Linked DNA regions of Homo sapiens: regions 2 and 3 are each reported to be linked to region 1. Evidence: microRNA targets listed by miRTarBase, many of them from high-throughput screens and not tested one by one. Region 1 holds a microRNA gene; each other region holds the end of a gene's coding sequence.
The links. Region 1 holds the annotated microRNA hsa-miR-4441 (ACAGGGAGGAGAUUGUA, at 2,848-2,864, shown strand). A microRNA usually pairs through its seed, bases 2 to 8, with sites in the 3' UTR of a target mRNA and lowers its output. Matches are read on the target gene's strand: a 7mer-m8 pairs with bases 2 to 8, a 7mer-A1 pairs with bases 2 to 7 and ends in A, and an 8mer does both.

Region 2: miRTarBase lists CCND3 as a target of hsa-miR-4441. Seed matches in the 3' UTR shown: 7mer-m8 at 5,814-5,820 and 7mer-m8 at 5,659-5,665.
Region 3: miRTarBase lists ZNF134 as a target of hsa-miR-4441. Seed matches in the 3' UTR shown: 7mer-A1 at 5,650-5,656, 7mer-m8 at 5,366-5,372 and 7mer-A1 at 3,411-3,417.

The regions. Positions count from the first base shown.
Region 1 is chr2:239,081,391-239,088,691 of GRCh38, reverse strand. MIR4441 (microRNA 4441) reads left to right here and starts at 2,766; the gene lies at 2,766-2,865. It overlaps HDAC4 (histone deacetylase 4), which reads left to right. Exons shown (of 27, transcript NM_001378414.1): 19 at 1,078-1,133; 20 at 4,450-4,537; 21 at 6,471-6,590.
Region 2 is chr6:41,930,063-41,937,363 of GRCh38, forward strand. It overlaps CCND3 (cyclin D3), which reads right to left. Exons shown (of 5, transcript NM_001760.5): 3 at 7,173-7,301; 4 at 6,497-6,633; 5 at 4,890-6,045. The coding sequence ends at 5,878. BYSL (bystin like) reads left to right here. Exons shown (of 7, transcript NM_004053.4): 3 at 70-208; 4 at 573-706; 5 at 1,334-1,494; 6 at 1,666-1,768; 7 at 2,299-2,984. The coding sequence ends at 2,644. Among named protein-coding and RNA genes, the nearest start is that of CCND3, 8.1 kb to the right of the region's middle.
Region 3 is chr19:57,620,668-57,627,968 of GRCh38, reverse strand. ZNF134 (zinc finger protein 134) reads right to left here. Exons shown (of 3, transcript NM_003435.5): 3 at 3,245-7,301. The coding sequence ends at 6,566. Among named protein-coding and RNA genes, the nearest start is that of ZNF211, 8.8 kb to the left of the region's middle.

The DNA.
Region 1 (7,301 bases):
ACTAAAATGTCTGAATACTGCTTCATCGAGCACATTGTTAAGAGAAGCTGCTCACACACACACACACGCCCTGGTGCTGTTCCCTGCCCGCCGTCTACCCTCCGGTGCTTCAGCACCATCGGCGCAGGTGTCAGGGCAGTGAAAAGAGTACATAGAGCCTCAGGACTACGTGGACTACAGACCCTCAGCAGGGGTCGGGACCGAGGGGTCTGCAGCCTACACTCGGAAGCACTGAGTGCAGAAACGCAGGGAGGCCAGGGCCTCTTGAGAGCGTTTGCCGCCACCTCATGGGCTGCCCTCGCCCCTTCCTGAGCCTGGTCCCTGCGGCGTCCGGCTCACCCCGTCCATGGCATTGTCACTCATGGTTGGCCGGCACTTTTTTTGAGGCTTCATTACAGACCTTGACCACACAGTGTCCTGTTGCTGGTGAGACCAGGAGAGGACTGGAATCCATTTTTATGGCAGCAACTACAGAGTGGTTTGCAGATGGATTTTTGACGCAGAAGTGATGGGGCAGAGGACAGCGTTTCTGCCCAGTGTGAGAGGAGCTGTTTCGTGGGCTGCCCACTTGCCCGCCATCCTGAGAGCTGAACTGCAGTAAGGACAGAGGCAGTCACGTGAAGGCCAAGCTGGGACACAACGTCTCTGCCCCGCGGCCAAGTCCTTGAGTGGGGCCCCTTCTGCTTCATCTTCCTCCAGTGGCCACCTAGCGGGTCCTGGTCCCGAGCCGACGGGGAGTGAGCACATCCTTTCCACATCACCCCGACCCCTGAGCCAAGGGCACCACGCCTCACCGACAGTTCTGAGAGTGGGCAGGCACCCACCTGTTATCCTAGTGACTGCGTTTCGGGGGAACCATTAGTAGCCCCCAGACCTCTTTAGGAGAAGGGCCCAGGCTTCCCGGAAAGGCTCCCAGCTGGCCCTGCATCCTGTCCCCATCACTGTGGCCAGGGTGCAGCAAGAAACTGTCCTCCTGTGTAGCCCAACTCTGCTAAAAGTTGAGTGTGCAACCATTTTCCCGTGGCTACAAAGTGTGTCTTTTGTTGCTCTCTCCTGGCTGTCTGGTGTCACCTGCAGAATGGCTTTGCTGTGGTCCGCCCCCCTGGACACCATGCGGAGGAGAGCACGCCCATGTGAGTACACGCCGCAGCCCCGCACAGCAGGGGAACCCAGGTCTTCCTTCCCTCCCTTAGGGCTGGGTGGGTGTGTGAGTGACTGCGGGGAGCTGGGCTGCTGTTTGCTGGCCACCCAGGATGTGCCGCATGCCGGCTTGGCTCCAGCTCCTGGGTGTGGAGTGCAGATGCCAAAGTCTGCGAGCATCACTGCTCGGTTATGACGGAGACAGATCAGAGGAAAGGATGGGAAAGGGTCTGTGGAGGTTAGTCCAGAGAAGCCTCTGGTTGTTGAGTAGTTGTCAACACTTGGGAGAGGAAACACCACTCACCCTCAAGTGAGTCACTGCAGCACTTGCTTGTCTAGAGGACTCAGGTCATTTTGCGCATGGCCTTTTAGCTGCCTGCCGAATGCCTGGTACTGACGCAGCAAGCCACAGAGCCACGTCCATGCAGGCAGCTATCCTGATGCTGTTTCGGGTCTTTCAGAGACTGCCGACGGTCCATACAGCTGAGGATCTGGGCAGGGTGGCGAGTGTGGGGTGTGGGTCCTCCCGGATCCATCCCTGTGTGTCCAGAGCCAGTGGCAGGACAGACCCGCAGCTGTCTGTGGAGTGCCTTGCAGCCTGGGTGGTGAATGAATGATCTATCCCGTCAAAGAGCATGCTGTCTCCTGGGACGGTAGCCGCTCTAGTGAGGAGGGGTGGTGCTAGAAAGAGCGTCTCCCCATGCTCTGGAGATGGAGAAGGCGTGCCTGATCTTGCCAGCTTCGGTGAGGAGGAGGTGGCATAGGGCTCTGCCTTGGAGAGTTGGAGCAGCAGTTTGTCAGATGGCAACGCAAGAACAAGTGCAGATACAAGTTCACTATCAGGCTGTGGCCAGGAAGCAGTCAGAACAAGACAGAACCGCAGGGGCCCGGGAAAGGGCCTCCCTGTCACCCCTGGGAAGTCAGGCGTCCACGGAGGGGCCGGCAGGACGTGAGAGATAGTCAGATCCGCGTGTTAGAGCAGAATCTCCTTCACGTACAGGGAGGAGACTGTACGTGAGAGATAGTCAGATCCACATGTTAGAGCAGAGTCTCCTTCGTGTGCAGGGAAGAGATTGTACGTGAGAGACAGTCAGATCCGCGTGTTAGAGCAGATTCTCCTTCATGTACGGGGAGGAGACTGTACGTGAGAGATAGTCAGATCCGCGTGTTAGAGCAGATTCTCCTTCATGTACAGGGAGGAGACTGTACGTGCGAGATAGTCAGATCCGCGTGTTAGAGCAGAGTCTCCTTCGTGTACAGGGAAGAGACTACGTGCGAGATAGTCAGATCCGCGTGTTAGAGCAGAGTCTCCTTCATGTGCAGGGAGGAGACTGTACGTGAGAGATAGTCAGATCCGCGTGTTAGAGCAGAGTCTCCTTCGTGTACAGGGAAGAGACTGTACGTGCGAGATAGTCAGATCCGCGTGTTAGAGCAGAGTCTCCTTCGTGTACAGGGAAGAGACTACGTGCGAGATAGTCAGATCCGCGTGTTAGAGCAGAGTCTCCTTCATGTGCAGGGAGGAGACTGTACGTGAGAGATAGTCAGATCCGCGTGTTAGAGCAGAGTCTCCTTCGTGTACAGGGAAGAGACTGTACGTGCGAGATAGTCAGATCCGCGTGTTAGAGCAGAGTCTCCTTCGTGTACAGGGAGGAGACTGTACGTGAGAGATAGTCAGATCCGCATGTTAGAGCAGAGTCTCCTTCGTGTACAGGGAGGAGATTGTACGTGAGAGATAGTCAGATCCGCGTGTTAGAGCAGAGTCTCCTTCATGTACAGGGAGGAGATTGTACGTGAGAGATAGTCAGATCCGCGTGTTAGAGCAGAGTGTCCTTCGTGTACAGGGAGGAGATTGTAACCGCCAGGGAGGGATGCTTGTTGGAATCTTTGTAGCTTTACCTGAAAACCACGTGTTTGCTCCACATCCCAGAACAGTCACTTGGGCACCAGGCTTCCTGTTTGTTTCATTTCTCTGAAGTTTCTTTTCTAATTTGAACCTGAGTTGTTGGATATTCCAAATAATAAACCTCAGAGGAGACAAACGAATTGTGTTTTGTTGCAGCTCTTCGCTGTGCTCCCCGTGAGCCGCTGCAGGAGCTCAGCGTCTAGGATGTCCTGGGGCGTGTGGGCTTCCCCATGCCAGCCCGGATTCTGAAAACAAAACAACTAGTGTTTCTCCGTTTCTGTGGTCATTCGGACAAAGGGAATTTGAGATCAAGAAGGTTTTCGTTGTTATTTGAATCACTTTCATAGCTTGTTTTCTTGGTCTCTTGAGTAAGACTCTCTAAAATTAAAGGTAATTTATGTATTGGAATATAGGAAGGTCAGCAGGAAGCAACTGAGATGAACGGCTGCCATGTCTCCTGGGGCGTGGCGGCAGCTCCTGAGAGGAAGGGTTCCAGGTGAAGATGAGGGAAATGTTGGTAACATGTGAAATAGGGTTCCCTACCAGAGGAGCGTGGGGGACCTCCAAGCAGGAGAGTGTGTGTGTGTGTGTGTGTGTGTGTGTGTGTCTGTCTGTCTCAGTATGGAACTGTGGATGTGTGTGATAGGTATATGCTTATGTGTATATGTGTGTGTGTGCTTGTATGTGTCTGTGGTTTGTGTGTGTGTGAGTGTTTCTGTATGGGGTGTTCATGTGTATCTGTGCATGTGTGTCTACGTGGGGGGGGTGGGTATGGGCGTATCTGTGGGGCATATATGTGTGTAGGGCGTTTGCATGGTGTGTGTGTCTCTATCTGTGGGGTGTGGGGTGTGTGTGGGGTGTGTGTCTGTGTGGAGTGTGTGTGGGGTGTGTGTCTGTGGTGTATGGGCGTATCTGTGGGGCATGTATGTGTGTAGGGCGTGTTGCATGGTGTGTGTGTCTGTGTGGGAGGGTGTGTCTCTGTGGTGTGTGTGTCTGTGTGGGGTGTACGTGTGTCTCTGTCTGTGGTGTGTGTGTCTGTGGGGGGTGTGTGTGTGTCTCTGTCTGTGGTGTGTGTGTCTGTGTGGGGTGTGTGCATGTCCGTGTCGGTTAGCCGACCCTATGGCATTGGCTAAGATTCCCCAGTGGCTTGTTTGGGAGCTGTGTGTGTGTGTGTGTGTGTGTGCGCGCGCACGCGTGTGAGTGTGTCTGCATGTGGGGTGTGTACGTGTCTGTCTGTTAACCGATTCTCCGGCATCACTGAGGGTTCCCTGCGACGTATTCAGGAGCTCTGCACTCACAGAGACCTCTTAGGTCTGCGTGGACCCCGAGTGGCTCTCTGGCGGGCCGTGGAGAAACTGGCCACCGCCCACCTGCGCTTCGTCTCCAGCGTCAGTTCTCTCCCGCAGGGGCTTTTGCTACTTCAACTCCGTGGCCGTGGCAGCCAAGCTTCTGCAGCAGAGGTTGAGCGTGAGCAAGATCCTCATCGTGGACTGGGTAAGCAGAGCCGCCTTGGCCAGCGCAGCTCAGGTTGCTCCTTTGCCGTCCCCGAGCGGACAGCAGCGTGTGGACAGAGGAGCTGGGCTCTTGGATGTGGGAAGCTTAGGTTTCTGGAAACGGTCTCAAAGATGCGGAGAAGTAAAGCCCCAAACCTGCTACAAGTCATTGTACAGCTTCCGTCAGCCGACCCTGGCGAATGGGGTCCTGGCGTGTCTAAAAATGTGCCTGTGGGTGACGGCAGCGGCCAGGGCCACCCTCGACGAGATCTTCTTGGAAGACAGGTGTTGGGGAGGAGGCTGTGTCCACATCTACTTTGCGTGTGTGGCCTGGGAGCCTGGGAGGACCCTCACCCTGGTCGAAGGCGGCAGTCTGCTTCTCAGTCACCCCAGTGAAGCCCGTGCCTTCCTGCTGCTGTGTGGGCACCTGGTCCTGCTGGAATGGGGGGTGCCACTGCCCCCAAAAGAGTCATCTCTTTTTAAATAATGCTATATGATGTCCGAATCTGAATTCCACGAATAGGTATACTCATTCTTATACCGGAAATTAATATTCAAGATATTCATCTTATTACTCTTTTTAAAGCCAGATATATACATATTTAGTGTTCTCTTTGGTATTTATGATTTATTTCATAATTTTTAAGGGAAAAAAGCAGGCCCTGTCAGGTAGGGTTATGATTTGAATTGGAGAAGTCCTTCTGAGTTTGGGTAAAGAAACAATATGGCACAGCCAGGACAGCCATGCTGTTTCGGAGAGGCAGGTCAGGGGATGCGGCAGAGCAGCGGGTCCCCCACACCCAAGGACCTGCGAGCCGGGAGCCCTCCCTCAGCTCCTCCTAAGGGAGCAGGTAGGAGTGCCTGGGAAGAGAGCAGTGTGAGGTCGCTGATGGCTAAAGACTGGGGACCCATCCCCAAAAGAGTGAAGCGCTAGGACACGCAGACAGGCTGCGTAGACCCTGTGTGGCGTGCTCCCTGCGCGCTGAGCTGTGATATTGCCCATGTACACACCATGCGGACAGGGTCATCTCAGTGTGAAGCCACATGTCGGGAAAGCCTCCATGTGCGTCTTCACAGCGATTACCTACTCTGTGGGGTGGAAGGTTCTTGTCCATCGCTCCTCACCTGTAGCTGCCCTTCCGCCTTTTCTGTGATGAGCACAGATAACGGAGCAGCAAGTTCTCGTGCTGGGAACATCAGGGCTGCATGCTGTCTTCTCAGGCACACAGCTGTTCTCAGCGGGGCCACCCCCTCGCCCGCCCATCCTGGTGACCACCTGCCCTGTGGCCCGGGGCAGAACAGCCACGGTCAGTAAAGCCCCAGGCTGCCTGTGCTCTCTGCTGCATCTGACCTGTGGGTTTTGTGATTAAGAAACGGTGCTTGCCATTTGGGCACAGGGGCCTGGACCCCGTACTGTGTGTGCCTGTCACTCACGGACACCTGGGACTTGTCTCCTGCCGAACGCCCTGCCTGGCATGGAATTGGCACCTCCCACGTGCCTGCAAGCGGGCAGGCCACAGCCAGTGACCTCCTTCCTGACAGAGGCTGAGGAAGTGGCTCACTTGTCAGAGACACGGCAGGTGTAGGAAATTGATCAGATGGCTTCGTCTGGGAAATGGTGGCCTCTAGGCCTGGCTGAACTCCAGCCCCATCGGCTGCTGGAGTCAGGATTGTGCCATGGCGCTAAGGGCGAGGGAAACAGTGCTGCAGACGCGAACATTGGCCCTTAGAACCCCTGCGACCCTGCACCACGTAGCCCTGACCCACACAGCCCCAGAATCGCGCCTGCCGGGTACGGGCCCAGCTGGAGGGTAATGTCATTCCTGAGCAGGAGCCGTTGTCACTAAGCACAACTGGGGTTGGGGACGGCCCTCAGGGGAGGCCACCCTCCAATACCTGCCTCAGCCCTGAAGTAGTTGTCCCTGCTCTTTAAGGACGTGCACCATGGAAACGGGACCCAGCAGGCTTTCTACAGCGACCCCAGCGTCCTGTACATGTCCCTCCACCGCTACGACGATGGGAACTTCTTCCCAGGCAGCGGGGCTCCTGATGAGGTAGGTGGGGTATATAAGGGCCTCTGGGGGGAAAGGGGGACTGCGGGGAGCCGCTGTGGGGGCACGGGGCAGACGGTCCACAGCTGCCCGGCAGCAGTGAGTGCGGCCTTCGTGCTCACTTAAGCCCAGACAGTAACTTCAGTCAGACGTCAGCCTGCATCGTATCGCGTGTGCACAGGTGGCCTGTGTTTTGTCTGAAGTACAAATGAGAGGCTGGATATTGTTTCTGGTTCCCATCCAGGCAGACAGAGGTGTTTGTGAAGGAGGAGGTGTGTGGTGCCCGTTTTCCTCCGGGCAGGGCCCAGGCCACTGTCTTCCACAGGACACCCTCCGGCAAGGGGCTCTGTCCACTGTCCTTTGCCCGGCGCGGGGCTGCATGGCGGCCCCAGGAACGGCAGGCCCAGCGGCTCCTTGACAACGCCCCAGGTCCCCGTTCAGAGCCTGCCCACTCTGAACAGAGGCTCCAACAGCAGGGCTTTCATCCAGGAAGACGCTCCGTCTGCCTCTGGATATTATTTTTTTAGAGGAAGTAGGAAATGACAGGCTCATCGGAGACACTTTCTGCCCAGAGAGACCCAGGTCTGATTCCCTGATGTAACACACGGCACACAACACAGGGCGGCGGGTCCGCAGAAATGTCAGTGCAGGGCCTTGGTGTGCCAAGGGCAGGGTCGGCGAGAGCCTACAGCAGCCAGGAAAAGGGCCCCCTTG
Region 2 (7,301 bases), not on the chromosome of region 1:
GCTTCCTGGACAGTGACCACAGTGCTCCTTGCCCCCTCTCTCCCCTCCTCTTGGCACTTCCCCTCTTAGGCGCACCCTGGCTGACATCATCATGGAGAAGCTGACTGAGAAGCAGACAGAGGTTGAGACAGTCATGTCAGAGGTGTCGGGCTTCCCTATGCCCCAGCTGGACCCCCGGGTCCTAGAAGTGTACAGGGGGGTCCGGGAGGTAAGAGCTGAGAGGGGAGCCATGGTGGAAGACCCCTTTGGGGGCTGTGGGCTCCTGCCACAGGCTTTTTTGCCTTTTGCCTGCATCACATACTAAAGAAGTCATGGGAGTAGAAAACAGACCTAAGAGGCAGAGTGTGTGGGTTCAGATTCCTGCTCTGCCTGTAAATGACTTGGCATCCTTGGGTCGGTTACTGGAACTCTCACTGGTCATCTGTAAAATGAGCATAATAATGGCACCTCCTTATAGGTTATTGTGGGGATGCAATGAGTTAATATATTAAAAGCACCCAGACAAGTTCCTAGCCCACAGCAAGCTTGCCATATGTGGATGACGATGATTGTTTTACCTCCCTCATCCCTAGGTATTATCTAAGTACCGCAGTGGAAAACTGCCCAAGGCATTTAAGATCATCCCTGCACTCTCCAACTGGGAGCAAATCCTCTACGTCACAGAGCCGGAGGCCTGGACTGCAGCTGCCATGTACCAGGCCACCAGGTAGAGTAGCTGGGGGTTCGGGGGCCTTGGGTTTATAGGTGCAGGCTGAGTTTGGGACGGACAGGCTTTCCTTGCCTCTGGCCCCAGGGCATTTGAGCTTTGCCCCAGGGCCCTCTCTGTGCTACTTTATAGCATCATTTTTCTAGCTTTTCCTGTGTCATTTTTTGGGGCCAAGACCCAGTTAGCCAGTTAGGAACCCTCCGTGATGAATTTCTAGGGGAGAGGCTTTTATAGCTACTGGGATACAACCCTCTGTGATGAATTTCTAGGGGAGAGGCTTTTATAGCCACTGGGATACAACCCTGTAGCAGGACCCTCAGAAGTCTGTGACTGCCCAGGCATGCTCAGGGCTACTCAACTGATGCTGAGTAGCCATCAGTTTGCACGAGCTCTGGCTCTCCCACAGACAAACGGTGCTCCTCATTTGGGTATATCTCATTGCCCCTCCTATTCTCTCTCTAAGCTGATGGGTGTTGCATGCACACAGCTCCCACACATCCCCCACTGAAAGAAAGGTCCCATATTTTACTTTAAAACCTCTTGTATGCACTATCCATGGTGATATTTAATGGGCCGGGTCCAGACTGTCGTGTGAGTTGGAAACTTCCCCCGCTTAACTCCCACTAGGATTTTTGCCTCTAACCTGAAGGAACGCATGGCCCAGCGCTTCTACAACCTTGTCCTGCTCCCTCGAGTACGAGATGACGTTGCTGAATACAAACGACTCAACTTCCATCTCTACATGGCTCTCAAGAAGGCCCTTTTCAAACCTGGAGCCTGGTTCAAAGGTGGGATCCCAGAGGCACGGAAGAAAGGGAAGGGCTGGAGCTTCTATGGGGAACACAGCAGGCCTGGTGTGGGAAATTGCTAGCTGTCCCTGGGCTGGGTGGGAATGCTTCCTGCTGTAACTCCTTTTTCTCATCCTGGGCTCACAGTGGCTGCCCTTTGACTCTCCCTAGGGATCCTGATTCCACTGTGCGAGTCTGGCACTTGTACCCTCCGGGAAGCCATCATTGTGGGTAGCATCATCACCAAGTGCTCCATCCCTGTGTTGCACTCCAGGTAGTATTGCTGGGGGTGGAAGGGGGCTGGTCAGTGGATATCCAGATAGTGGAATTGCCAGGACTTGGGAATGGGCAGAGTGGAGAAGGAGCTAAGGAAAGCCTTGGGTTTGTGCTTGTTTAAGCCAATGAGTAGGTGTATCATTATCCCCCTCAATGTAAGTTGTGCAACAACAGGGCCCGAGTGCCTGGCATAAAGTAAGTTCTCAGTAAATAGATAAACAAATGAGTAGGAAACACAGGAAGAAAGTAGTTAGGGTGGAGACGTTGAGATGTTTGGACCATACTCTAGTTGGTTACTGAAACAAGCAGTCTATGCTAGAGATAGAGATTTGGGTGGATCCCTGTAGAGATGGTGACTGAGGTCAAGGGAGTATAATATGATTGTGTAGGTGAGAAGGTCCCTGGGGAATACCATAGTGTAAGGGCCAGCAGAGGGGAAGAAAAAAAGGGGAAAGCATAGAGGGAGAAGTAGGATCCTTCTTCCAATGTTTTCCCTGCTTACTCTACCCCACCTCCCTTTCCCACTAGTGCGGCCATGCTGAAAATTGCTGAGATGGAATACAGCGGTGCCAACAGCATCTTCCTGCGACTGCTGCTGGATAAGAAGTATGCACTGCCTTACCGGGTGCTGGATGCCCTAGTCTTCCACTTCCTGGGGTTCCGGACAGAGAAGCGTGAACTGCCTGTGCTGTGGCACCAGTGCCTCCTGACTTTGGTCCAGCGCTACAAGGCCGACTTGGCCACAGACCAGAAAGAGGCCCTCTTAGAACTGCTCCGGCTGCAGCCCCATCCACAGCTATCGCCCGAAATCAGGCGTGAGCTTCAGAGTGCAGTCCCCCGCGATGTGGAAGATGTTCCCATCACCGTGGAGTGAGGAAAACAGTCAGCTGTCCTGGCCAAAGGGGTTTGGAAGGACACCAAGACCCCCGTTGGTGACTGAAGATGACACTGAGCTTTAATGGCTGAAGACCCAGATCAGGGCAGTGACAGATCACAGGGACATCTGTGGCTCCCAGTCCAGGACAGGAAGGACTGAGGGTCTGGCTGGTTCCCTCTTCCATTCTAGGCCCTTATCCCTGTTTAGTTCTGAGAGCCAACTTGAGATACCATATGCTAGCATTCCCAGTCCCCAGCTGGGGCTTGGTGTGAGTACTTTTTCTATGGCTATTGTGTCAGGTCACTGTGGATAAAGGCAAAGACAGATATTTATTGAACCTCTGTGTTTGGTGTAGTCAATGGAGGTAGGCATTACTCCTGTTAGTATTTGGAGGACGGAGGACATTCTTGTCCTGTTTATATAGGACCCACCTCCCTTGATCTCCAAGCTTGTTTCTCCAGGCTGCACTCACCTTGTTAGCCCCCAGGGGACACATCCTCTGCCTTCCCCCATCACAGGCTACAGCAGCCAGGAGCAGGTTGTCCAAAGATGGTCGTGTCTCAGCAGTGGATGAAAGGACTACAAGAGAAAACTCCTTGGGGAAAGCAGAGATAAGAGTCAAGAAAGGCCAGAGAGGCTGGGCTTGGTGGCTCACGCCTGTAATCCCAGCACTTTGGGAGGCTGAGGTAGGTGGATTACCTGAGTTCAGGAGTTCGAGACCAGCCTGGCCAACATGGTGAAACCCCTTCTCTACTAAAAATACAAAAATTAGCTGGGTGTGGTGGCGTGTGCTTGTAATCCCAGCTACTTGGGAGGCTGAGGCAGGAGAATCGCTTCAACCTGGGAGGTGGAGGTTGCGGTGATCCAGGATTGGGGCCACTACACTCCAGCCTGGGCCACGGAGCAAGACTGTCTCAAAAAAAAAAAAAAAAGGCCAGAGAATAAGGCTGGGCCCAAGAATGGTTAGATCAGAGCTAGCATCAAACAGGCTCCCTTTCTGGCTTTTCAGCCAATGAAAGCTTTAGACTAGTGACTAGTAAACTAGGGCCAGGTGCCCCTTTTTTTGTTGATTTGTTTTTTGAGACGGAGTCTCGCTCTGTCGCCCAGGCTGGAGTACAGTGGCATGATCTCGGCTCGCTGCAACCTCCGCCTCCATGGTTCAAGAGATTCTCCTGCCTCAGCCTCCTGAGTAGCTGGGACTACAGGTGCGTGCCACCACGCCTGGCTAATTTTTGTATTTTTAGTAGAGACGGGGTGGAGAAGGGGTTTCACCAGGTTGGCCAGGCTGGTCTCAAACTCCTGACCTCAGGTGATCCACCCGCCTCGGCCTCCCAAAGTGCTGGGATTACAGGCATGAGCCACTGCACCCAGCCCAAGTGCCCATTTTTGTGTGGCCCATGAGCTAAGAATGATTTTTCCATTTTTAAATGGGGAAAAAATTAAAACAGTATTTTGTGATAGGTAGGAATTACATGAAATTCCAGTTTCAGCATCCATAAATAGTTTTGTTGGAACAGCCATGCTCACCCATTTACATGTTTTCTGTGGCTGGTTTTGTGCTACAACAGCAGAGTTTAAGTATAATCCTGCTATAACCCTTGTTATTTGCTTTCGAAATTGCGCATTTGTTCCAACCCATTTAATATATTTGGGAACAGTTTGATCATAACGCAGACTTCATGTTTGCTTGTGTGTGATTTCATCCTCGAGAAATAGTAGGTGAATATGGGAAACTGTATCTAGCTGAACCAAGCCTAAGTAGTACACAAAACTCACACCTAAACATGTACCAGCTACCTCACTCATCTCCCCACCTGTGTTGAGCAACCCTTCCGACGTCCACTTCCAAAAGCAAAGTGCATGTCTTCAAGATAAAAGGCCATATTTATTGTGATATAATTTCTCAACCATTTGACATATGTAAAAACCAAGCTATCCTTTTTTTTTAAATGTGTCACTCATTTGAGTGTTGTGCTTCAAGCCCCATTTTTCCCATGAGACCTGTGGTCTTTATTGTGCAATTTTGCATGGCATAGTGATTTTTAGGAACGCATAGGTCACATTATAAAGCAGAACTGACTATATTTGGGTCAGAGACCATGTACCCCACAAAGCCTAAATATCCAGCCCTTTACAGAAAAGGCTCAATGATCCCTGCTTTAGACCATTGACTTCCACCTCCTTACCTCATACAGTGCAGAAATAGACTTACCCACACACCAATCCAAGAAGCCAAAGCCAGTTTTATTTCACAATCATCTTTATTACAGTAGGATGATGGTCCTGGGCCACCAGCCTAAACCTTGCAGCCTTAGGAAAGACCTGTGTCAACAGGGCTTGCCTCCCTCTCTAGACAGGGGCTCAGCCACCTCCAGGGCATCCCTGCTGCATTTTCCCTGCTGGAGGATGGGGCAGAGGGACAATGGGAGAGGAGGGCATGACCCCACCCCAGGCTATAGCAGCTCCTTGGCCACAAAGATCCTTTTGCCAGTAGCAGAAGGGAGGAAAACAGCAACCACCAGGGTTACCACCACTTGTGGGATGGCCAGGACCCCATTATGTCCTCTTAAAGTTGTGCTCAAAGCAATTAATAAATTAAAATGAGCCTTCAGCAGCAAAGCTGTCAATCACACAGGAGAAGCTGAGCAGAAAGCAAAGCAAAGAGGAATTTATAGCTTCTCTGGCTGAGGCCTAGGCCCCTCCCTCTAGGAGCAGCTGTCAGCACGGACTACATAGGGGCCTCCAAAGTACTGAGAGGAGCCATCTAGACTATTCCCCCTCATATGTGTCTATCATGCATTAAATTTTAGAGGGACCCCAATCCAAATGCAATAACCCTAGAAGGGACAACACCTTTAGAAGGCACTAGAGCATTTTGGCAGTTGAAAACATGAGAGCCCCCAGGGGTGGGGGGGGGCGTTCAAAAGGAATGCTGGTGTATGTATCCAATTCTGTCCCATCAGCCTGGCCCACCCCCAGCTAGAGTTGGGAAAGGCGCTGCTGGTCAGATGCAGGGAGGAGGAGCTTGACTAGCCACCGAAATGCAGACATGGCTGGCCGGGCCCCTTAGTGCACACTGCGGGGATGGGTAGGACCAGATCCCTTGGGCTTTGTGAAGGGGGAACAGACGCCCCTTCAGGCTTAGATGTGGTGTGGTTCCTGGAGGCAGGGAGGTGGGTGGCAGCGGCCCCTCCTCTGCTTAGTGGCCACTCCAGAGGGCCTCTCCAGGGCTACAGGTGTATGGCTGTGACATCTGTAGGAGTGCTGGTCTGGCTGGGCCCTTGGCTGCTGGAGCCCCGGGGGGCTTTGGGCGCTGGGCTGGAGCTGGTCTGAGAGGCTTCCCTGAGGCTCTCCCTGAGTGCAGCTTCGATCTGCTCCTGACAGGCCCGCAGGCAGTCCTGGGAACATGGGAGAAGAGTGAGGAGCAAACACTCCCCCCATAGCATCTGGCAGCAGGTGCAGGGGAAGGACAGCTCCCAACACATGGGGAAGTCTGGGGAGGTTAGGCCACAGCCCGGCCCCAGGAATCGCTCTTTAGTTCTCAGAAACTAGCAAGAGGATGTGGCAAGGGAGTGTGAGAGCAGCCCTGCATCTGACACCAAACCCCCCACCCCCACTCCAGCACACCACTTGGCAAGAAAAGAACCCCTAGGGCCAGTGCCCTTCACCCCACCCAAGATACTTGCTCTTCCCCAGACCAAGGCAGGAGATAAAAAGCCACAAAGCCCCAAGGTTGTGAAACCAGGACTTGGGACCAGGTTGGGGTTGGAGGTTTCCCTCTACTGGAGGCTCAGGGCATAGCACTACTTTATGAATGGAGAGGCTGCTGCCCAGCTACCCAGCACTCACCACTTCAGTGCCAGTGATCCCTGCCAGCAGCTCTGTGAGCTCATCCCCGGACATGGAGCAGGCACCCAGGCCTTGCACTGCAGCCCCAATGCTGCCCGTGGCGATCATGGATGGCGGGTACATGGCAAAGGTATAATCTTGGAGAGGAGGAAAGGGAACCATGAGAGAAGGAAACCTGAAGGATAACGGCCAGCATGGACTTCCGACTCCTTGGAAAGTGCCAGGCAGCATGAGTAGAGCAGAGGACATGCTGGAAAACTCCAGCAGTGGGTGGGGCAAGATATCAGCAAGGGAGGAAGACAGGAAAGAGTATCTTTCCTAGAGATCAGAACCAACTGCCAGTTTCCATAGGTCCCGGGAATAGACAAGACACTCCCTAGTATGGGAACACAACTAGGGCCAAGAGACTGGGGTTCTGTTCCCAACCTGTTCACTGTGAGACCTTGGGCAAGTCACTTCTCTCTATACCCTCAGTGTCCCCACTACAAACTGGAGGGGTCTGAGATCCCATATAGCTGATTATAACCTGCTTTTCTGCATTGAGACTGGGGGCTCAGAGGGGGTATAATTTTCACAAAGGAATTTTGACAGTATAAACCAGAATCTTCAGTTACCTCTCACCCTTATAAGTCTTCTGATTTTTCCAATTTGGCAAAAATGTGCATAGGGCTCTTACCTGTAGCACAGAGGGCCAAAAAGGTCTGGGCATGCTTTTTGACCAAGGCCTGTCGGTCACGGGGCAGAGAGAGCCGGTGCAGAATGAAGGCCAGGAAATCATGTGCAATCACAGCAGCCAGGTCCCACT
Region 3 (7,301 bases), not on the chromosome of region 1:
GCCTGGCCAACATAGCAAAACCCCATCGCTACTAAAAATACAAAAATTAGCCAGGTGCAGTGGTGGGCGCCTGTAATCCCAGCTACTTGAGAGGCTGAGGCTGAAGAATTGTTTGAACCTGGGAGGCGGAGGTTGCAGTGAGCCGAGATCGCGCCATTGCACTCCAGCCTGGGCGACAGAGCAAGACATCTCAAAAAAAAAAAAAAAAAAAAAAAAAAAAAAATTTCATAGGAGCCAAGATTCCAGCATAACCAAGGGTTCAACTTACATGTCCCATGTCTTAGAACTGTTTCCTCTATTTACCTTTATTTGTTCCCATTTCACAGATAATTTTCTCTTTTAGGTATGATGTCATTCTAAATGGATAACTCCAGTAATTAATGTTAATAACTTTCTACAATTTTCTAACTTCAAAAATTTTTTTCAGAGATCATCTCCAATCCTCTTGGAGACACTGTCACTGCAATTACAGGTGGAAGAATAAAATGACCATCACTTCCCAGCAAGGAGATGAGGTCATGGAATCCCAAACCTTATTCTCAGAGTTCAGATGCCCATGCCAAAAACTGATGCTACTTTCCTAGTAGCAAATACCAGTTTGGTAAGTAACCACTATTTCTACATAAATGTCATATTCTTCAAAAAGTAGATTATATCTTGGAGAATCCAGTAAGAAATGTTATACAAAAAATTGTAATTTTGAGGTTTAGAATACAAATACTCAGAAGGAACATACTATGAGGGACTCAGAAGCATAGACCACCTCATGCATTTGCTTTAGTGCCCCTAGAATCTCTATTCCATATTTTCTCTTATAACGTGTCTGGATTAGCCTCCATTTCATCCCTGACCTAATACTCTGAACTTCACACAATCACTCGAAGAGTTTATTTGCCTGTGAAGTGAAGAGCAATAAGACAATTTGTTTTACTCACAACTACTGAGTGGACATTTGGCATCTCTGTAGCAATTAATTGGAAATACACACTTTTGCTTTTTTTAAAACCATGATTCCAAAATAGAATCTGTAGGGGTATTTTACTAAAGATTCTCAGACACCTGCGAGACCAAACATTCTTTCTAATTTAGTGTAAGAAAAATATTTGTAAAAAGTAGTAAGTTACAAATAGATAATCCTGAATACAAGGACTCTGAAGCTATAATTGTTAGGCAGATTTGAAAGCATGGTTTGTTTTTTTTGTTTTTGTTTTTTTGACGGAGTTTTGCTCTCGCCGCCCAGGCTGGAGTAATGGCGCAATCTCTGCTCACTGCAACCTCTGCCTCCCGGATTCAAGCAATTCTCCTGCCTAATGTTAGTATTTTTAGTAGAGATGGGGTTTCACCATGTTGGCCAGGCTGGTCTGGAACTCCTGTCCTCAGATGATCCGCCTGCCTTGGCCTTCCGAAGGGCTGGGATTATAGGTGTGAGCCACTGCACCCAGCCACAAGCATCTTTTATAAGTATACAGTAATGTAATTATCAGTGTTTTGCTATGTCCTATGTTGAAGTAGCTCAGGTAATTTTGAATCAGCATAAGTATTTACTGTGTCATCTAGACGTCGTAAGATGGCTTATTCTGGTCACATACACTCTCTGATGAATATCTAGTTTCCTAAAGACTGTAATTTTCTTTCTTTTTTTTTTTTTTGAGGTGGAGTCTTGCTCTATCACCCAGGCTGGAGTGCAGTGGTGTGATCTCGGCTCACCACAAGCTCCGCCTCCCGGGTTCATGCCATTCTCCTGCCTCAGCCTCCCGGGTAGCTGGGACTACAGGCGCCTGCCACCACACCCGGCTAATTTTTTGTATTTTTAGTAGATATGGGGTTTCACTGTGGTAGCCATGATGGTCTCCATCTCTTGACCTCGTGATCTGCCCGCCTCAGCCTCCCAAAGTGCTGAGATTACAGGCATGAGCCACCGTGCCTGGCCTAAATAACGTAATGTTAAGTTAAATCTGAACTGTGCTCCCATAGTACCTCTGTACCAGAAAACCTTGAGCCTTTTTGAAAACTTGAAGTTTGTAAGAGGCTTAGTGTTAAGCCTAATCTTAGGATTTGCAGACTCCTAGTCTTTTTCCCCAATTAATACACTCTTTGTTAATCTCACAAGTTAATTTGGCATGCTTGTATATGGCTTAAATTTATTTCATACATTTTGATATTAAGTAATTTCATTTCTTTCCTTTTCATTAGTCTCTTATTGTGCTTCATCAACCTAATTGTTTGTTGTTCTAATAGTATTTTTTTCAATTTTTACAGTGCTATATAATTTACTGTTTTAAACAAATCTATGCATATGTGGCATATTATCCTCTCTGAATTGCTTACTCTGTAATTTAGACTGAGATCACTATTGTTAATTTTCCCAGGAACAATTTTATTCATTTTCAAATATACTAGGAACTCCATTGCTAATCTCTGTGGTAATTGCTCAATTGTCTTCCACAGCTCTTTAAACCAATCCCAAAAGGCCAGGCACAGTGGCTCATGCCTGTAATCCTGGCACTTTGGGAGGTCAAGGCAGCCGGATCACCTGAGGTCAGAAGTTCAAGACCAGCCTGACCAACATGGAGAAACCCTGTCTCTACTAAAAATACAAAATGAGCCAGGCGTGGTGGTGCATGCCTGTAATCCCAGCTACTCAGGAGGCTGAGGCAGAAGAATCGCTTGAACCCAGGAGGCAGAGGTTGCAGTGAGCTGAGATAGTGCCATGGCACTCCAGCCTGGGCAACAAGAGTGAAACCCCATCTCAAAAACAAAATCCCATTTATGATTATGAAATTCAAAATGATCAAGGCTATTAACATGTTATCCCACACACCAGAACTGTTGTCGAGTTTTCAGTTCACCAATAGGTATTTCCCCTCAAAAATTTGATGCCTTTTACTATTTTATGATTTTTTTTGAGACAGTCTCGCTTTATTGCCCAGGCTAGAGTGCAGTGGCGCAATCTTGGCTCACTGCCACCTCTGTCTCCTGGGTTCAAGCGATTCTCCTGCCTTAGCCTCCTGAGCAGCTGGGACTACAGGTGTGCGCCTCCACACTGAGCTAAAGTCTCCAATTTCATCTAAATTGTCTAAGTCCAATATGGATGAGGCTCTAGGTATAATCCCATCTTGGGGCACAATTCTTCTCTGTGTTGCTGGGGGGTTCGGGGGGGTCTCTGGACATTGTTGGTGAGATCCCAGCCCCAGCAGCATCCAGGTTCTTAACACCATTGAAAGAATTCAGTGACGAGTCACAGTGAAGCAAAGGCAAGCAGCTTTTATTGTGAAGCAAAAGTACACACAAGAGAGAAGTGTGGGAGTGCCCCTGAGAGCAAGTCATGCAAAACAAAGTTTGGGTTTCTAATTGTATGGGTGTTCCTTTAATAGGGGTAATCATTAGGTATTCTGGGAAAAGAGGGGATTTCAGGGACCCCTGATTACCACCCCTCCTCCCTTATTTGGGTTTGCCTGGAAGAGTTACAGACATGTCACCCTGACTGGGGTTCTGGCAGTTTTCTCTTTTGTTTTGGGTTTTCTGTTATCCCACGGTTTCTTTGCCTAGTTCCCGTTTTAGCTGTTGTTTGGGTTTTTCTTTTTTTTTTTCAGCTGCACCAAAACCAGGGTGTTGAGATTTTCCATCCTCCTGTGACCACCCAGTGCTATTCCTGTCTCATTTGGATCTGTAAAACTAGAAAACTAGTTATCTGCTCCCAAACAAAAGGTTGGGAAAGACCTAGGATAATAGTTATATGTATATGCATTGTTTCAAAAGGGGAGGAAATGGAAGGGGGGAAAACAAAAAAAATGGAACCACCAATCCCAAGAAAATCTGAAATCTAGTTTGGCAAATGCCACTGGGAGTCAAGACATGGGAATATCACATGGTTCAGGACTCTGCCCACTGGACTCTCCTCTGCTCTGAGTCATCCTTCCTTTCTCATGAAAGGTAGCAAGGGCTTGCACCTGTTTCCGCAGCCAGTCCCATGTATAGAATATTACAACCTTTAACTTCACACTTTACATGCCTACACCCTTTAACTTCATACTTTCAAGGTCCCTTTAGACCCAAGGTGAGCATTTCCACTGGTATAAAATTTTCAAGAATTTTGTGAGTCTCCTGTACATCACTGAAATTCACAACATTAGAAAAGAGGTTTATGCAGATTATTCCTCCTAGGGAATCCCCTATCTATATTTTTGGCTTTTGCTGAGATGAGTGATAGTTTAAACTTCTTATAAATTGTTTGTATTGAGGGGATCTACAAGTCACATTTAATCTCTTCAAAGAGCTTTTTGTGTGACAGTGTTCTGATGTATGTTTTGATCCCGGTATCAGCAAACATCCTTGGCTATCTCTCTAAAACATCTCTCTCTCTAAAACATCTATCTTTCCTAACAATGAATCTCTTAATTTCAATGGTTTGTTTTTTTTTTCCAATTAAGATGGGCTGAGAATTTCCCAAATCATCAAATCTTAGGTCTTTTCTGTTTCACAGTTCTTCCCTGTATGTATCTCTTTTCCAATATATTTTACTATAATTAGTAAGATATATGGTCACACCTTCAAAACCTCTGCTTAAAAATGTTCTCAGCTAAGTGTCCACATAAAGACTCATGCATCAATATTTGCAGCAGCTTTTTAATATTTAAAAATGGGGGTGGAGTACAGACATCAATTAAGATAAATGGATAAACTGTGGTATATCCATACAGAATATGACTCAGTAATTTTAAAATGGACTGTTCATACATACCATGGACAAATTTCAAATTATGTTGCATGAAAGACAGCATGCAAAATTAACACTTTATAGGCAGACTTACATAAAATTCTAGAAAAGACAAATTTACCTACAGTGAAAACTACTCAGTGGTTGCCTAGGGATTCTGGGGGAAGGCGAGCACTGAGAGAAAGGTTAAGGGCCTCAGGTTAACTTTGGGGGTAACAGATATGTCCAATACCACTGATAGGGTGATAGTTTCAAGTGTGTGTGTGTGTGTGTGTGTGTGTGTGTGTGTGTGTATCAAGACTTAACTCGTACACTTTAAATATGTGCAATATATTGCATGTTGATTACACCTCAGTGAACCTATAAAAAGTTATCCCATTTAAAAATCTGGATCTCCCACTTCTATTGGAAACTGGACAACTGGACATCACTAAGAGTGACTCTACCTCACTATGGTGACTCTTATCACTCCAAATATCTTGGGAAGACAATCTCTTCCTCAGTAGTAAGAAAAACTGGCAAACAATGAGGACCATTGCCAAAAGAGTCACCAGAAACTCCAGCTGGTCACAAAAGCTACTTCCTTGGACCACACCTCTTTACTCCCAGGGTTACCGCCTGTGCCGCAAAGACATTAGGTAAAGAGCCCAGGGAGGGAGAGGAATCTAGAAAAACTACATTCGTTGCTGCACCAGTGACCTTGACCTAACAGTAACATGGCCCTGGAGATCCTGAGATTTCTGGATACCCTGATCCCATTCAGCCTTAGTGCCTGGACTGTCTGTGGATGTGTTTTTACAATGGGCACTTCCCCTCTAGTTTGCCACAATCTCCCCAATCCCAATTACTCACACTCAATATTTATCAATTTTGTTTCCCTACTGGATGCTTTAGATCTTACCAACAGTGGCCTGTGAAACAGATTCAGGCCTTCAGGGAATATGGCCACTCAGCAGGTCCTGAGGAACAGCTTTCCCTCAACAGTGTTGGGGAACATGGGACACATGCTGCAAACAAGACACCCAATCCATGCTGTTTCAAAACACTGCAGGCTGTCACAGCAGCAGCACCCTCCTCAAGGTGAAATATGGGCTCTCAAATAACTCTAAAATCCAGACAAATCAGGTCTACACAAGATCTTAATTCTTACTTAACAAGCTTTGTCAGCTATGGAAGTTAACATCAAAACTGGACTAAGAACTGTTCTCCCTCAACCCACTGTCCCATTTGAGGCAAAGTTGGAGGCACCGCACAAAGGCTGTCTTCAGTTTGGCAGAGCCTGTTTTCAATCCACCCCAGACCATAAGAAGAAGCCCCAAGATTAAATGTGGCTTAAACTGTAAAGCCTTTATTATCACAAACCAGAGCAACATGAGGCAAGTACTTTCCCAGGCCAGGTGACTTGGAGGCTGGAAAAACTTGATTACAAGTATGTGAGACCAAGAATATCCATGAAGAAAGTAAACTTTTTGTATAAGCCACCAGCAGATACAGCTCAGACCCTCTTGGCTAAAAATGGGTCATATCCATACCTATACCTGTCATACAGAAGGGAATGAGGACCCCCAATGAACTCAGGCATTTCATGATTTTCTCCAGGGACTGGACAATACAAAACCCTGCCTTCCCCAATGCTGGGGTATCTTAGCTGGTAGAGTTAAGATGGTTTCGGCCACATGGATTGACAGTGACATAACTCTGGCAAAAAACCTGAGCAAGTCAGAAAGTGCAACATATCCCTAGAAGGTTCCCACGTACCTGGCACCATAAGGTATCTCCTTTGTGTCAATGTTCAGATACATGAAATTCAACATCTGATTGATGAGTCCTGTTGTATTCAAAGCACTCCTAAAGCCTGCCTGCAGTGTGAACTTTCTGGTGCCGATTGAGGTGGGAGCTTAAGCTGTAGGCCTTCCCACATTCACTGCACTCATATGGCCTTTCTCCAGTGTGAACTCTTTGGTGTCGAACAAGGTGGGAGGTTCTGATAAAGTCTTTCCCACATTTACTGCACACAAAAGGCCTTTCACCAGTGTGAACCCTCTGGTGTGCAATATAGTCAGAACTTCGACTAAAGAATTTCCCGCATTCAATGCACTCAAACGGCTTTGACTCAGTGTGAATTCGCTGATGTTTAATGAGGGTGTATTTGTGGCCAAAGGATTTCCCACAATCACTGCAATCATAAGGATTTTCTCCAGTGTGAATACTCTCATGCTGAACAAGTGTAGATTTGTGTCTGAAGACTTTCCCACAATCACTGCACTTATAAGGCCTTGCTCCATTGTGAACTCTCTGGTGTACAATTAGATTGGAGTGATGGCTAAAATATTTCCCACATTCATTGCACTTATAAGGCATTTCTCCAGTGTGGATTCTCTTGTGCTGAGTAAGGTTGTCTTTTCGACTGAAGGTTTTTCCACATTCGCTGCATTCATAAGGCCTTTCTCCAGTATGGATTCTCTGATGCTGGACAAGTGTAGCTTTGCGGCTGAAGGCTTTCCCACATTCGCTGCACTCATAAGGCTTCTCTCCACTATGAATTCTCTGGTGCTGGACAAGTGTGTCTTTGCGGCTGAAAGCT